4 linked regions of the Homo sapiens genome follow. The protein of the gene in region 1 purifies or fractionates together with the protein of each later gene. This does not show direct contact. Each region holds a gene or a part of one and is shown on either strand. Other genes may lie near its edges.

Evidence for each region. The genes of interacting proteins can lie anywhere in the genome.
Region 2: the proteins of PLEKHG6 (region 1) and TMOD1 purify together in Homo sapiens (affinity purification with mass spectrometry; one large-scale study listed by BioGRID and IntAct). This does not show direct contact.
Region 3: the proteins of PLEKHG6 (region 1) and PCDHGA5 purify together in Homo sapiens (affinity purification with mass spectrometry; 2 studies listed by BioGRID and IntAct, with this or other methods). This does not show direct contact.
Region 4: the proteins of PLEKHG6 (region 1) and CARNMT1 purify together in Homo sapiens (affinity purification with mass spectrometry; 2 studies listed by BioGRID and IntAct, with this or other methods). This does not show direct contact.

The regions. Positions count from the first base shown.
Region 1 is NC_000012.12:6,317,058-6,320,803, forward strand, and holds part of PLEKHG6 (pleckstrin homology domain-containing family G member 6), read left to right. Parts: intron 1-245; coding exon 246-356; intron 357-441; coding exon of another isoform or gene 442-489; coding exon 490-639; intron 640-799; coding exon 800-937; intron 938-1,243; coding exon 1,244-1,363; intron 1,364-1,687; coding exon 1,688-1,820; coding exon of another isoform or gene 1,821-1,900; exon of another isoform or gene 1,901-1,916; intron 1,917-1,935; coding exon 1,936-2,051; intron 2,052-2,513; exon of another isoform or gene 2,514-2,616; intron 2,617-3,746. UniProt on the Homo sapiens protein: Guanine nucleotide exchange factor activating the small GTPase RHOA, which, in turn, induces myosin filament formation. Also activates RHOG. Does not activate RAC1, or to a much lower extent than RHOA and RHOG.
Region 2 is NC_000009.12:97,507,960-97,511,705, forward strand, and holds part of TMOD1 (tropomodulin-1), read left to right. Parts: intron 1-3,746. UniProt on the Homo sapiens protein: Blocks the elongation and depolymerization of the actin filaments at the pointed end. The Tmod/TM complex contributes to the formation of the short actin protofilament, which in turn defines the geometry of the membrane skeleton.
Region 3 is NC_000005.10:141,362,512-141,367,001, forward strand, and holds the start of PCDHGA5 (protocadherin gamma-A5 isoform 1 precursor), read left to right. Parts: upstream 1-1,650; 5' UTR 1,651-1,819; coding exon 1,820-4,240; coding exon of another isoform or gene 4,241-4,261; exon of another isoform or gene 4,262-4,490. Other genes in the region: PCDHGB2 (protocadherin gamma-B2 isoform 1 precursor), read left to right, coding at 1-45. UniProt on the Homo sapiens protein: Potential calcium-dependent cell-adhesion protein. May be involved in the establishment and maintenance of specific neuronal connections in the brain.
Region 4 is NC_000009.12:75,021,754-75,025,499, reverse strand, and holds part of CARNMT1 (carnosine N-methyltransferase), read left to right. Parts: intron 1-3,746.

The DNA.
Region 1 (3,746 bases):
GGATAGAGGGAGCTCAGAGAGCTCTGGGTCAGTGTCGGGACCTCAGGCTCCTTCGTGGAATCCAGAGAAAGGGGCGTAGCCTCGAGAGCATTCCTGGGAGGATCCTGGGAGGGAGGGACTGTCAGGAGCTGGGCTAAGGGCCCCTGCGAGGCTCTCTTCACCTGCTCCTGGGTCCTGCAGCTAGAGCCTGTATTCATGGCCTTCTCCCCATGCCTGCTCCCCACCTCCCGTATCTGTCTCTCCAGTTTGGCCAGCGGTTCCACCCCTATGTCCAGTACTGCCTCCGAGTGAAGCAGACCATGGCTTACGCCCGAGAACAGCAAGAAACTAACCCTCTCTTCCATGCCTTCGTGCAGGTGGGAGAAGGGGTGCTGGGGAGGGGGACGGGTGCATCTTAGCCGGCCGGTCTCCAGCTGAGCCTGAGGCTGAGTTCACCACTAGGCAGGGCAGGAGGGAGCAAACCCTGAGCCCCACCCACCTTCCCTGCAGTGGTGTGAGAAGCACAAGCGCTCTGGGAGGCAGATGCTCTGTGACTTGCTTATCAAGCCCCACCAGCGCATCACCAAGTACCCACTGCTGCTCCATGCTGTGCTCAAGAGGAGCCCCGAGGCACGAGCCCAAGAGGCCCTGAATGCCATGGTAGGTGCCCCAGTGGGGCTGGGACTCTGGTGAATCGGGGACTGGGAGGGGGGTCTCTTTCTTAGTGTGTCTGTGACAGTGTGGCGCTGTGCTGTGGCTGGCATTGGTTGGGAGGGGACGGCTGAGCCGTCCCTCCTCCCACACCCCCAACCCCACCTAGATTGAAGCCGTGGAGTCATTCCTGCGACACATCAATGGGCAGGTCCGCCAGGGCGAAGAGCAAGAGAGCTTGGCGGCTGCAGCACAACGCATCGGGCCCTACGAGGTGCTGGAGCCACCCAGTGATGAGGTGGAGAAGGTGAGAGGGCAAAGGGAAGGGACCCAGGAAAAGCAAGGTCCCAGGGATACTGGTGAAGGGGAGGGCTGCAAGGCCAGAACACCCCGTACTTGGGTGCTACAAGGGTGTCCATCATTCCTACCTGGTGGTGACAGTCCAAGGGGTACAGGTCAGAAGAGCAAAAAGGAGGCCCTGGGAGGCTTTCTCTAGCCCATGGGGGAAGGATACAAACAGAAAGGTGTTGGTGGCAGAACCAGGAGCCGCCCTTGGCCAGGAAGTCCAGGCAGACTGCCGAGCGCCCTGACCCCTCCCCTCTGTGTCCCTCAGAACCTGCGCCCATTCTCCACCCTGGACCTGACGTCCCCCATGCTGGGGGTTGCATCTGAGCACACCAGACAGCTGCTGCTGGAGGGGCCTGTGCGAGTGAAGGAGGGACGAGAAGGGAAGGTGAGGGTGCTGCGGACAGAGTGGAGGGGATGGGGCACGGTGGGAGAAGGTAAGAGGCAGAAACGCCGGAAGTGGGAGAAGAGGGGTTTGGGGAAGAGGATGTGGTTCTGGCTAAGCCCCAGTCATTTGTGTGACCCTGAGCCAGCCACTTTGCCTGCCTGTAAAGTGAGAGATGTGACCAAAGCGACGCCCCTGGCCACTCCCGCATTTGGGCTCTGCGTGTGTCCCTGTGTGCCTGCGCACCATGCCTGAGCCTCCTCCCGGACCAGCCCTGCCCCTGGCTCCAGCTGACCCTGTCTCTTTCCCCTACGCCCCCACCCCCAGCTGGACGTGTACCTGTTCCTCTTCTCTGATGTGCTCCTTGTGACCAAGCCCCAGCGCAAGGCGGACAAAGCCAAGGTCATCCGACCCCCTCTCATGCTGGAGAAGCTCGTGTGCCAACCCCTGCGAGACCCCAGTACGTCCTTCCTTCAGGGAGTCTTTTCTTCTCCCTCTTCTCAGCGAGGGGAAGGAGGAGCTGGGACGGAGATCAAATAAAGGCTGGCCTCTTGAAGGTTGTCTCCTCCATCCAGACAGCTTCCTGCTGATCCACCTCACTGAATTCCAGTGTGTCTCCAGCGCCCTCCTTGTGCACTGTCCCAGTCCTACAGACCGTGCCCAGTGGCTGGAGAAGACCCAGCAGGCCCAGGTATGGGAAAGCCAGCAACGGGGAGGCATGGGCAGGGGTCCCCGGAGCTCAGAAATGGGAGCACAGTGGTGGATCACACCTGTAATCTCAGCACTTTGGGAGGCTGAGGCAGGTGGATCACCTGAGGTCAGGAGTTTGAGACCAGCCTGGCCAACATGGTGAAACCCCGTCTCTACTAAAAATACAAAAATTAGCCGGGCGTGGTGGTGTGTGCCTGTAGTCCCCATTACTTGGGAGGCTGAGGCAGGAGAATCACTTGAGCCCGGGAAGTGGAGGTTGCAGTGACCTGAGATCGTGCCACTGCACTCTAGCCTGGGTGACAGAGTGAGACCCTGAAGAAGAAGGAAAAAAAAAAGAATGTAGGAAGGAAGGAAGGAACGAATGAACATGGGAGCGCAGAGGGGAGGAGGAGAGAGGCTGGGGTGGATTCAGTTTCAGACTGGACAATCTGATGTGCCCCAGAGAGGGAGGCAGAGCCTCCACCATCCATCAGAAGACAGAAAAAGCCTTTGGCCAGCTACTGTGCCAGCCACTGGGAGAGCCCAAGATACAGCATCCCCTGAAGGTTTGTACAGCCTGAAATGATTAACTTCTAGAAGTCATCTTCCATTCGCAGACATTTACAGGGCACTTGCTGAGTACGGCAGGCACTAGAGCTAGGTGCTAGGGAATCAGAAAAGAGTAAACCACCATTCCTGCCCTCAAGGCCTAGGTGCTGCAGCCTGGTTGAGTAATTAGTATACAAACAATAGAGAGAAGTTATGTAGAATGAAGCTGGGACAGAGAAGGGAGCAAGGCATTGTCTGCTGGGTCTGTTTGGAAGGGACACAGAGGAGCTGATGTCTGAGCACCATTTGGGAGGATACCTAGGAGTATGTCAGGGAGTCAGGGTGGAAGGGAAGGGCATTCCACATGGAGGAGCAGAACGTGCAAAGGCGGGAACTGTGAAACAGTTGTGTGTGTTGAGAGAACTGCCCCCATTGGTATTGCTACAGTATCAAGTACAAGAGTAGACGCAGCAGGGAGAGGCTAGGGGGTAGGTGCCACCAGGTCATGCCCATCTCTGCATGTCATGATAAAGCATCCTATAGATGAGCTTTGTCCTTTGGATGACAGAGGGCCAGTGAAGGAGTCGGGCAGGGGAGTGATGTGAGCAGATAAAAAGCAGGAGGAGTTCAAAAGAAGAGAGATGCAAATGGAGCTGTATTAGGTCCCACAAACTTGGTGGCCTAAAATGCATCAGAAGCTTACTCTCTCACAGTTCTGGAGGCCAGAAGTTTCAAATCAAGGTGTTGGCAGAGCTGAGTTTCCTCTGGAGGCTCTAGAGGAGAATCCATCCTTGCCTCTTCCAGCTCCTGGTTGCCCCAGGCGTTCCGTGGCTTGTGGTAACAAAATTCCAAACTCTTTCTCTGTCTTCCCATGGCCTTCCTCTCTGTATGTCTCTGTGTCCAAATTTCCCCCTCCTTTCTCTTACAAAGATGTGAGTATTAGATTTCGAGCCCACCCTAAATCCAGGGAGAACTCATCTTGAGCTCTTAGGATCTCTGCAAATCTGCGAAGACTCTTTTTCGAAATCAGGTCACATTCACAGGTTCCAGAGGGTAGGACTTAGATATATCTATCTTTTGGGGGGGCCACTATTCAACCCACCACAGGAACGGAATGGCCAAAGAGAAGTGAAGATTTGAGTTAGAC
Region 2 (3,746 bases), on another chromosome or scaffold:
TAGGAGCAATGAAGGGCAGACTCAAATCCTTCATTAGTCCTTTGGGGGGCCTTAAATAGCAATTGACACATAATGAAACACAATCTATCTTCCTGATTCACACACACACACACACACACACACACACACACACACACACACACACAGACTCTGGAGACCACCTTGCTGGATTCAAATCCAAGGTCTACTAGTTACTGGCTCTGTAATCTCAGGTAACTTTTAACATTTCTTTCTTTCTTTTTTTTTTGAGACAGAGTCTCGCTCTGTCACCCAGGCTGGAGGGCAGTGGGGCGATCTCAGCTCACTGCAACCTCCGCCTCCCAGGTTCAAGCAATTCTCCTATCTCAGCCTCCCGAGTAGCTGGGACTACAGGTGCACACCACCACACCTGGCAAATTTTTGTATTTTTTAGTAGAGATGGGGTTTCGCCATGTTGGTCAGGCTGGTCTCGAACTCCTGACCTCAGGTGATCCACCCACCTCGGCCTCCCACAGTGCTGGAATTACAGGTGCGAGCCACCGTACCCAGCCAACTTTTAACATTTCTGTGCCTGGTGTCCCCATCTATAAACTGGGGTTGTTGTGGGGATGAAATTAGTTCTTATATGTAAAATGCTTAAGACGTGCCTGGGATATTATGTAAGCGTGAGCTGTTATATTATGGGAAGGTGGCAGCATGGAGTACTGGTAATGAGTACTGATGGCCTGCCTGGATGTAAATCCTGGCTCTACCACTTATTAGCTTTGTGACCTTGGTCAGTGTACTTACTGGGTTAAACAGGGTCCCCCCCAAAAGTCATGCCCACCTAGCACCCCAGAATGTGACCTTTCTCTGGAAATATGGTCTTTACAAATGTAATTAATGAAGTTAAAATGAGGTCACACTGGATTAGGGTACGTCCTAACTACCCTATGACTGGTGTCTTAAGAAGAAGAGTGGACACACGCCCTTAAAAAGGCTTGAGATGGCTTAAAATAAACCTATATAGGCAGCATAACTAGTAAGAACAGATGATGATAGAGTCAGAGATTGGAGTGATGTGGCTGCAAACCAAGGACTGTCAGGGATGGCCAGCAGACACCAGAAGGTAGGAATGAGGCATGGAACAGATTCCCCGTCAAAGCCTCCAGATGGAATCAACCCTGCTGACACCTCGATTTTGGACTTCTGGTCCTCTGAACTGAGACAGAGTAAATCTCTGTTGTTTTAAGCCATCCAGTTTGTGGTCATTTATTATGGCAGCCCTATAAATCTAACATAGTCTGCACTTCTTCATCTGTAAAATGGGGATAATAAAAGTATCTGCTTCACAATTATTAAGACTGCAAGAAATAATCCATGTAAAGAGCTTAGCATTGTGCCTGGTATGCAGTAAGAACAAAACAAAGCTTCTATTATAAGGTACAGTGACAAGTGGCCAACAGTAGCCTCAAGGATGGTGTTAATAGTAGTCTGTTGTATGTCTCTAATTTATTTACTCAATGTCTTATTGAATTTTTATGCCGTTTTGGGGGTTTTGGGTTTTTCTTCGCTAATAGAGGTTTTTTTTTTTGTTTTTTGTTTTTTTTTTAGACAAGGTCTCACTCTTTCACCCAGGCTGGAGTGCAGTGGCTCACTGCAACCTCCACCTTCTGGGCTCAAGTGGTCCTCCCCCAAACCCCAGAAGCTGGGACCACAGGTGCATGCCACCATGCCCAGCTAATTTTTTGTATTTTTAGGCGAGACGGGGTTTCACCATGTTGCCCAGGCTGGTCTTGAACTGAAAAAGGGTATACCAATGTAACTTCTCTTCTGTGTGAGGACACTGGTCTCCCCACATCTTGTCAACACTGGGAATTCTCAGACTTTTAAATCTCTGTCAATCTGATAGAACTGATATCTCCTTCCACAATTTGCTTTTTTATAATTATAAGTGAGTTTTGTTATTATTTATATGTGTATTAGCCATTAGTATTTCCTTTTGTGTGAACTGTCTATTCCTCTCCTCTTTCCACATTTTCTGGCCTGTTCTGTTTTTTTATTGGAGGAACTCTTTGTCTATTAAACAAATCAGCCTTTTGTTTAATATGAAGCAAATATATTTTCCCCCAGCTTGCCGTTTGCTTTTTGGTATTGTTCGTATTAATTTTCATATTGGTTTTTTGGAAAATACAAAAACATGTTTCATAAAGCTCTATCTTACATTAACACCTGCTATGAGGCTATGTGATGAAGTTCATGTTTGTAAAATGGAGAATGAGGATAGGAATGAATTCCACAAGCTTTCCTACAAGTTAGCTTTTTTTTTTTGACACTGAGTCTCACTCTGTTGCCCAGGCAAGAGTACAGTGACACAGTCTCGGCTCACTGCAACCTCCACTGCCCAGGTTCAAGCGATTCTTTTGCCTCATCCTCCCGAGTAGCTGGAATTACAGGTGCCCACCACCACGCCTGGCTAATTTTTGTATTTTTAGTAGAGATGGGGTTTCACCATGTTGGCCAGGCTGGTCTCGAACTCCTGACCTCAGGGGATCCACCCACGTCAGCCTCCCAAAGTGCTGGGATTACAGGCCTGAGCCACCACACCCGGTCTACAGGTTAGCTTTTATTCTACAAGTGCTTTTGACTTACGGCTATCAAAGCTAATAATAATGCTAGGCATTTATTCATTCATTCATTCATTCAACGAATATGTCTTCAGCACTGGACAGGTGCAGGGCTTTGTGAAGGACCATGGGAGACAGAGATGTTTGTCCTCAGGTAGCTTTTAGTCTTGTGGGAGTAGGGGTGCCTGAAGATAATGCAATAACTCCCAAAGAACTCTGATGGCCTCTCTTGTTTGTACTACAATCGTTAGCTTCCTAGAACTCTCTTCTGCTGGTGTGGAGGGAAATGAAATGGAAGGGGCAGAGCGTGGGGAGAGCTAAGTGTGGCCTGAACCAGAAAAGTTGCAGAGACATAGGAGGAGTGGAGTGCAGCATGGTTTGAGGGCAGGTGGGCAGGCCAGCTGAGACAGGGAGATGTCTTCAGACTCTTTTCCTGGAACCCTGTTGCTTACAGATGATTGCTGTGGTGACTCAGACACCATGATGACCCCAAGAGATGCAAAATGAAAACATGCACCCGCGCGCGCACACACACACACAGACACACACACACACACACACACACACAGGCTTTTCCAATTTAAACCACTTGACAACTTTGACGTTTAGAGCATCGAGCATGGCTCATTGTGTTCTGGGATGAAGCTCATAGCAACTGCAGAAAGTGATGGAGTCAAACACTATGTTTAGTGTGTTTGTTTTTTTAGAAGGTACTTTCCCATATGACTAAGAGAATGAAATCAGCCAGTGAAAATAACTGCAAATGAGCCAGAAAACAAGTCTGTTAACAATAGCTGGTCTCTAAGTCCCCATCCTCCTCCATTCAGGGGCTCCACGCACATCTGTCATAATAGAACTAGGCCTTAAAGGGCCTTAAATCCTGTATTGTCAACTCCCCAATAACCACCATCAATCAAGACATCAACCCTCTCTGGAAGACCTCATCTAGGGCTCTGCCATCGCTGCTCACAGCCTATAGAGACAGGTGCTCACTACTTCCCGGCTTAGCCCAGTGTACCCCTGGGCAGTTTTTGTTTGTTTGCTTGTTTGTTTGTTTGTTTTTTGTGTCTCATTCTGTCACCCAGGCTGGAGTACAGTGGTGCAAACAGGACTCACTGCAGCTTCTTCCTCCTGGGCTAAAGCAATCCTCCCACTTCAGCC
Region 3 (4,490 bases), on another chromosome or scaffold:
CATGGAGCCGCTGGGGTCCCTTTTGCCTCAGATACTATTTTGAAGGTGAGCTTTAATTAATTTATTTTCACTTCTGGTTTTATTGTTTCACCTAATTTGGGTAGGAAGTTCCACTGCGTATTTCTTTGTCTGTGAGTTAGATTTGGCCAATGTTGTGCCTTAATTGTCTTAATCTTATCTAACTGAATTTTAAGTGTTTTCTCTCTGAAGTGTGAGATTTATTTACCCATGATTGCAAACCTTTATCACATGAGATATTGCACTGTATTTCTTTTTCTTCCTCATCTTTACATTACTTCTCTCTGCAGATTTGTTGCTATTGAGACTTTAGGCAATTAGTTTCACCTTCAGGCTCTTTGTTATTCAAATTTTAGTTTTACTTCCTCTTAGAATCATAATACTTCAGAGTAAAGAGAGTCTTCATTTTAGTAGGCTTTGGAAATTGGGAAACAAAGAAGAAAGACTTTTGCATAATGGCATGGCTTGTTAATCACAGGGCATGGGTAGGACATTGTCCCATTGACTTGAAGACCAACACTCAGTAAGCTAAATGTCTTGGAATCACAAATGTATTTCTAAAGGACAGGCAATGTTTGAGGTCTGAGGTGTCTGCTAGAAAGAGTGCATTTAACAAATGTGAGAAATCATTCTCTAACATGCATTTTAACAAATTGCTCTTAAGAAAAACTACACATTGAGAAAAATCTTACAACCTATGTTCACATCATTTTCTACAAAATATTACTTAAAACTTTGCTTTTGAATTTCCTAATTATATAGAATTTTTATTTTCTTAGTTTTCTATGAAAGTGTTATTAAATAAAATGACTTTCTGAAATGTCCATTTTTTTCAATCAAGAGGTTTTTCTATTTCTGTTGTCATATAAAGATGATAGCAGTAAATATCTGTCTCAACATAGAAAGGTCACTCAGTACTTCTCGACAAGTATCTGCTCATGCTTTCCTGCATGGATGATGAAATAAAACCCCATCCTCCACAGTTACTATACTGGTTGTCACTGGAACTACAAATATTTGAACATGGTAATAGAAAAACATAAAAATGCATAGTTAACCCAACTCAAACGCTGTCTGAGATAGTGGAGAGACTTTCTCAAAGTCCTCACAAGTAACAAAGATCTTTATTTCTTCTGCATATGACAGCTAATATAACTTACATAAATCAGTAGGCCTGTTTGGAAAGGTGCATGGAGAACTGGGTTTGTTTCCTTGGTATTCTTATATGCAAATAAGCACGTTTTCCTAAATTTATCCTAATAAGGAGATGAAATCTTGAATCCTACAAAGGTAAGAATTTGAATGTCCTAATTTAATGGACTAAATATAGATAAGAGGTAAATAAAGGACATAGGCTCCCCCGATGACGCATTAAATAAAATTTTTGTAAGGTATTGAGATCTAATAATCATATTGATCTCAGGGATTGTGGAAGTCTTGCTATTCAGAATTAAAGCTGAATTAACGGTCATAAACAACGCTACACAGTTAAACATTAAGGATATGGCAACATTATTAGAAATAAAATTATAACTAAACTTAGGAGAAATAAAAATGGAATTTGATGCAGTCACTGGTTAGGACTCTGAGTGTCGCTGTTGACCAAAGTGGGAAAGAAGCTGCCGCAGAGGCGACCCGACTCTGCTCCCTCCATACTAAACACACAGACCAGACAAGCTCCTACGAAAAGCCAACGCTCCACGCCCATTTTCGTCAGGGAATATGTACCCATCGGCTTTAGATAAATAAGGAAACAGCAGGCTGAACCAGAACTAAGAGAAAATTGGGCAGAGAGAAGGCAATGGCGAGTCCACCTAGGGGCTGGGGCTGCGGAGAGCTGCTGCTGCCCTTCATGCTCCTGGGGACGCTGTGCGAGCCAGGATCCGGGCAGATCCGCTACTCGATGCCGGAGGAGCTGGACAAAGGCTCCTTCGTCGGCAACATAGCCAAGGACCTTGGGCTGGAGCCCCAGGAGCTGGCGGAGCGCGGAGTCCGCATCGTCTCCAGAGGTAGGACGCAGCTTTTTGCCCTGAACCCGCGAAGCGGCAGCTTGGTCACCGCGGGCAGGATAGACCGGGAGGAGCTCTGCGCTCAGAGCCCACTGTGTGTGGTGAACTTTAACATCTTGGTTGAGAACAAAATGAAAATTTATGGAGTAGAAGTAGAAATAATCGATATTAATGATAACTTCCCGCGTTTCCGGGATGAAGAGTTAAAAGTAAAAGTTAATGAAAATGCGGCTGCAGGGACACGGTTAGTGCTTCCCTTCGCGCGGGATGCGGATGTGGGTGTGAACTCTCTCCGGAGTTACCAGCTCAGCTCCAATCTGCACTTCTCTCTGGATGTGGTAAGCGGAACTGATGGACAAAAGTATCCGGAGCTGGTGTTGGAACAGCCCCTAGACCGCGAGAAAGAGACTGTTCACGACCTCCTCCTCACAGCTTTAGATGGCGGAGACCCGGTACTCTCCGGCACCACGCACATCCGTGTTACGGTCCTCGACGCAAACGACAATGCGCCCCTGTTCACCCCATCCGAGTACAGCGTGAGTGTTCCAGAGAACATACCTGTGGGCACTCGGCTGCTCATGCTAACCGCCACGGATCCAGATGAGGGAATAAACGGGAAATTGACCTACTCTTTTCGCAATGAAGAAGAAAAAATTTCGGAGACTTTCCAACTTGATTCCAACCTGGGGGAAATCTCAACTCTACAATCACTGGACTATGAAGAATCCAGATTCTACCTCATGGAAGTGGTAGCTCAGGATGGAGGCGCTCTTGTTGCCAGCGCTAAGGTGGTGGTCACAGTACAGGACGTGAATGACAATGCCCCCGAAGTGATCCTCACCTCTCTGACCAGTTCGATCTCTGAAGACTGTCTTCCCGGAACTGTAATCGCGCTGTTTAGCGTACATGATGGTGATTCTGGAGAAAATGGTGAGATTGCATGCTCTATTCCTAGGAATTTGCCTTTTAAATTGGAGAAGTCAGTTGATAATTACTATCACCTATTAACAACTAGGGACCTGGACAGAGAAGAGACTTCAGATTATAATATCACTTTAACCGTCATGGACCATGGAACCCCGCCCCTCTCTACAGAAAGCCACATCCCCTTGAAAGTAGCAGACGTTAATGACAACCCACCCAATTTCCCTCAAGCCTCCTACTCCACCTCTGTCACAGAAAACAATCCCAGAGGTGTCTCTATCTTCTCTGTGACAGCCCATGACCCCGACAGCGGCGACAACGCTCGAGTCACCTACTCCCTGGCTGAAGACACATTTCAGGGGGCGCCCTTGTCCTCCTATGTATCCATTAACTCTGACACCGGTGTCCTGTATGCTCTGAGATCCTTCGACTATGAGCAGTTGAGAGACCTACAGTTGTGGGTGACAGCCAGCGACAGTGGGAACCCTCCACTTAGCAGCAACGTGTCGCTGAGCCTGTTTGTGCTGGACCAGAACGACAATACGCCTGAGATCCTGTACCCCGCCCTCCCCACAGACGGTTCCACGGGCGTGGAGCTGGCGCCTCGCTCCGCAGAACCTGGCTACCTGGTGACCAAGGTGGTAGCGGTGGACAAAGATTCAGGCCAGAACGCCTGGCTGTCCTACCGCCTGCTTAAGGCCAGCGAGCCAGGACTCTTTGCGGTTGGGCTGCACACGGGCGAGGTGCGCACAGCGCGAGCCCTGCTGGACAGAGACGCGCTCAAGCAGAGCCTCGTGGTGGCCGTCGAAGACCATGGCCAGCCCCCTCTGTCAGCCACCTTCACGGTCACCGTTGCCGTGGCCGACAGGATCCCTGACATCCTGGCTGACCTAGGCAGTATCAAGACCCCCATTGACCCTGAGGATCTGGACCTCACACTCTATCTTGTGGTGGCAGTGGCTGCAGTCTCCTGCGTCTTCCTGGCCTTCGTCATCGTGCTGCTGGTGCTCAGACTGAGGCGCTGGCACAAGTCACGCCTGCTTCAGGCTGAAGGCAGCAGGTTGGCGGGTGTGCCCGCCTCGCACTTTGTGGGCGTGGATGGGGTTCGGGCTTTCCTGCAGACCTATTCCCACGAGGTCTCCCTCACCGCGGACTCGAGGAAGAGTCACCTGATCTTTCCCCAGCCCAACTACGCAGACACGCTCCTTAGTGAAGAGAGCTGTGAGAAAAGCGAGCCTCTTCTGATGTCTGATAAGGTAGATGCAAACAAAGAAGAACGGCGAGTTCAGGTTAGTTTTCTCTTTCGGTAAGGATGACCAGAACATTTTCATTTGTTTCCTTTTTCATGTTTCTGTCATATTCAGAATCAGCTAGTTATGTAAATAGTGGAACATTATTTGCTGTATTGGAGATTAATTTTTTTTATATAATTCATGCTTTCTCCATTTGTTTTCAAATTCTGTTTTGGGAAGTCTAGCTGATATCTGTAGACTTAAGTGAAACAAATACCTTAAAGGAAAGTGGTTAAATATAATCATT
Region 4 (3,746 bases), on another chromosome or scaffold:
CACAAACACAGATCTTACATGGAGCTATTTGCAATTGAGATAAATGTAAACAAGCAAAGATGTAGCATTAAATCTTAGTTGCATAAAATTATCTGTAGTAGATACTGTACTACTGTAATAATTTTGTAGCCACTTCCTGTTGCTTTTGCAGTAAGCTCAGATGTTACCAGTATCTTCTTAAAATAATCACTCTGCTTTTGTCTGTCAAGTAAATTGCATATAGCAGTAAACAGATTTCATCAAATTTAATGCAATACCATAAACCTTAAATAACACCATGGGTCCCATATGACGTGCCACTGGTGATGCTGCAGGTGCTCCCAAGAAGCAGAGAAAAAAGACATTACAAGAAAAAGTTGATTTGTTTGATATGTACTGTAGATAGAGGTCTGCAGTTGGAGGTTGCCCCCCAACCCCATTTCAGACAGAGGATTCATCTTGTAATCAAATTATGTAAACTTATAGTATTGATAAATGCAGTGCAGTAGTGTAAATGTATTTTCCCTTTCCTACGACTTTCTTAATATTTTCTTAGCTTTATTGTAAGAATATAGTACGTAATATATTAACATACAACATATCTGTCAGTTGTTTATGTTATTGGTACGGCTTTCGGTCAGTAGTAGGCTATTAGTAGTTAAGTTTTTGGTGAATCAAAGTTAGGTGTGGGTTTTCGACTGCACAGGGGGTTGGTGCCCCAACCCAAGTATTGTTCAAGGGTCAGCTGTACGTCCAGATTTTGCAGGGTTCAATTTTACTGCAAAATGTCTTTTAGTTAATACGTAGGAGATTTAGATAAAAGGTCATAAAGCAAGGAATGTCTTTTGATTAATATTTTCTCTTTCTAATGGGTTTCAATTTTGTGATTCCCACAGATTTTGCTTAGATGACATTCTCATTAAGGTAAAAATGGATATAGCTCATTTGTATTGAATAGCAAAAATGTTAGTTTTATAACCCAGTCTTGTTACGAATGAAGCACCTCAGCACATAGAAAACACTAGAGTTGAAAAGCTGAAAGTCTTTTCAGAAACTTCTTACTTTTAGAAATAACGGGGTGAGATTTTTTAATATTGAGATTTAGAACTGATTTTTACAGGTGAGGATGTGGATAGACACAAAGCGGTAAGCAACTTGCTCAGGGTTACACAATCCAGTTGTGGTAGAATCTGACCTAAAATCCAAAATCGTTACCTAAAATTTTACTGTGCATTAATGAGGAGTTATACTAGTAACACAAATTTAATGTTAGGTATTTAATAAAGATTTAAAATGAATCAAGACAGGCCAGGCTTTGTTTCTGACAAGTTATGTTTTTTCTATTTGGATTTCCTAGAGTAGTTCAACTAGGTGCAGAGGAATGGGCCTGTGACCATGGCCTTTAGATCAGACCTGGTGTGGGCTCACCCTGATGACAGGTGACTAAATCAGAGTTGAGGTCACTGCTGACACCAGGTTTCTAGAGAGAGTTAGAGGTAGAGATACCACCATTGGGGAAAAATGGCTACTAAGTTTACTTTCTCCTCTTATCAGCAAGAGGATGTCACCTCCTGATGCTGACTTAGTTCAGAACCAAGGAGAGTCTGATTTTTGTAAAATACTCCTTCAAAGCAGGTTTGGCAGAGTTTCTTAAAAGGGCCAGGCAGTAAATATTTTAAGCTCTGAAGGCCAAGTGGTCTCTTGTTACAACTCATCAACTCTGCCCTTGAATGGAAGGAGCCTTAGGCTTTGTGTAATCAAATAGTGTGGCTTTGTACCAATAAGACTGTACAAAAACCAGGTAGCCAATGGGCCCCTGCCTTAAAGCAATTCTGATAGCGTAAGCATGTGCAGGATAGTGAAGTTAGCCCCAGTTATAAGGGTATAATAAGGATTGGACTATATTCTCAACTTTAGTAAGATCCCACCTATTTTAAGAGTCACTGGTGGATGTATGTTATGGCAGCTTTGCACACCATTAAGTAACCAGGGGTTTAAGGATCTCATCCTGCTCTGTGTAGTTACTTCTGTATCAAAAATTGACAGCTCTTGTAACCAATCTATAACTTATCTCAACTCACCCTTGCAACCTTGATATTACTTGGTGATAAGTAGTCTCCATGGAAAACCAAAAGTGGCACCCGTGGGAATATAACTGAACATTTATTGCTTTTTACATATGCTGAAATACGGAGATATTGAATAATGACCAAGATGACACTTGTGTTTTAGAATAATTCTTCTGATTAGAGGTGGGGCAGGAAGGGCAGGGGAGGAGTTAGGAAGTAGAATTGAAAAGTATCCTGGGTTTATTGATTGTGGGACTAGGAGAAGAGGCATTTAGGATGACTCCTTAATTTCTTTTTCTTTTTTTTTTTTTTTTTTGAGTCTTGCTCTGTCACCCAGGCTGGAGTGCAGTGGCACAATCTCAACTCACTGCAACCTCTGCCTCCCAGGTTCAAGCGATTCTCCTGCCTCAGCCTCCCAAGTAGCTGGGATTACAGGCGCATGCCACCATGCCTGGCTAATTTTTTGTATTTTTAGTAGAGACAGGGTTTCACTGTGTTAGCCAGGATGTTCTTGATCTCGAACTCCTGACCTGAAGTGATCTGCCCACCTCAGCCTCTCAAAGTGCTGGGATTACAGGCGTGAGCCACCATGCCCGGCTGATGACTCCTTTAATTTCTAACTTGGGTGCATTTGTTAATCTTAGCCATGAAGGAAGGAGGGCAGGTTTTTGTGGGGCATGTGCTAAGTTCACTTTGGATATGAGTTTTGAGTATGGTGAGAGGGAAGTTGTGGGGCATCCAGAGCCCGGGAGTAAACACTAGGAAGAAAGCTCTGTGAGGCTGTTCAACTGTTGAAGCTCTGCTGTTTGCCTAACTTGATGTGGCCATTTTAGTTCCTTTAATGTCATACTCTGCTGTTAGGAATGTAAATTTATGGAGTCTTTTTGCACATCATTTTATATCAAGAGCCTTAAAAATACTAACTCCTGGCCAGGTGTAGGGGCTCACGCCTATAATCCCAATATTTTTGGAGACCAAGGTTGGCAGATCACTTCAGGTCAGGAGTTCAAGATCAGCCTGACCAACATGGTGAAACCCCATCTCTACTAAAAATATAAAAATTAGCCGGGCATGGTGGTGTGCACCTGTAGTCCCAGCTACTTGGGAGACTGAACCAGAAGAAGCGCTTGAAGCTGGGAGGCAGAGCTGGCAGTGAGCTGAGATCATGCCACTGTACTCCAGCCTAGGTGACAGAGTGAGACTCCATCTCCAAAAAAAAAAAAAAAAAAAAAAAAAAAGTATTCCTTCTCACCTGGTAATTCTGGTTTTGAGAGTTTATGCTAATTTTTTTCCTAAATTATAGACAGATTTTGAACACAAAATGTTCATCACAAAAACAAGTGAGTGTCTAAATGCCCAGTAGTTGGGAAATAGCTAAGTCACTGATGGTTACCTAAGATGGAATGATGAACATCCACTTTGTACCCCACAAATATAGACAATTATAATTTGTCAGTATTCAGCTTAAAAAAAGTAAGATGCTAGATGACTTTTTTTTTTCTTCTCTTTTTTGGAGACAGGGTTTTTGCTCTGTTACGCAGCCTGTAGTGCAGTGACACAATCATAGCTCGCTGCCCCCTTGACTTTCTGGGCTAAAGCAATTCTCCTACCTCAGCCTCCCAAGTAGGTGAGACTACAGGCATGCACCACCACGCCTGGCTCATTTTGTTTTTTTATTTTTTTGTAGAGAGGATGGTC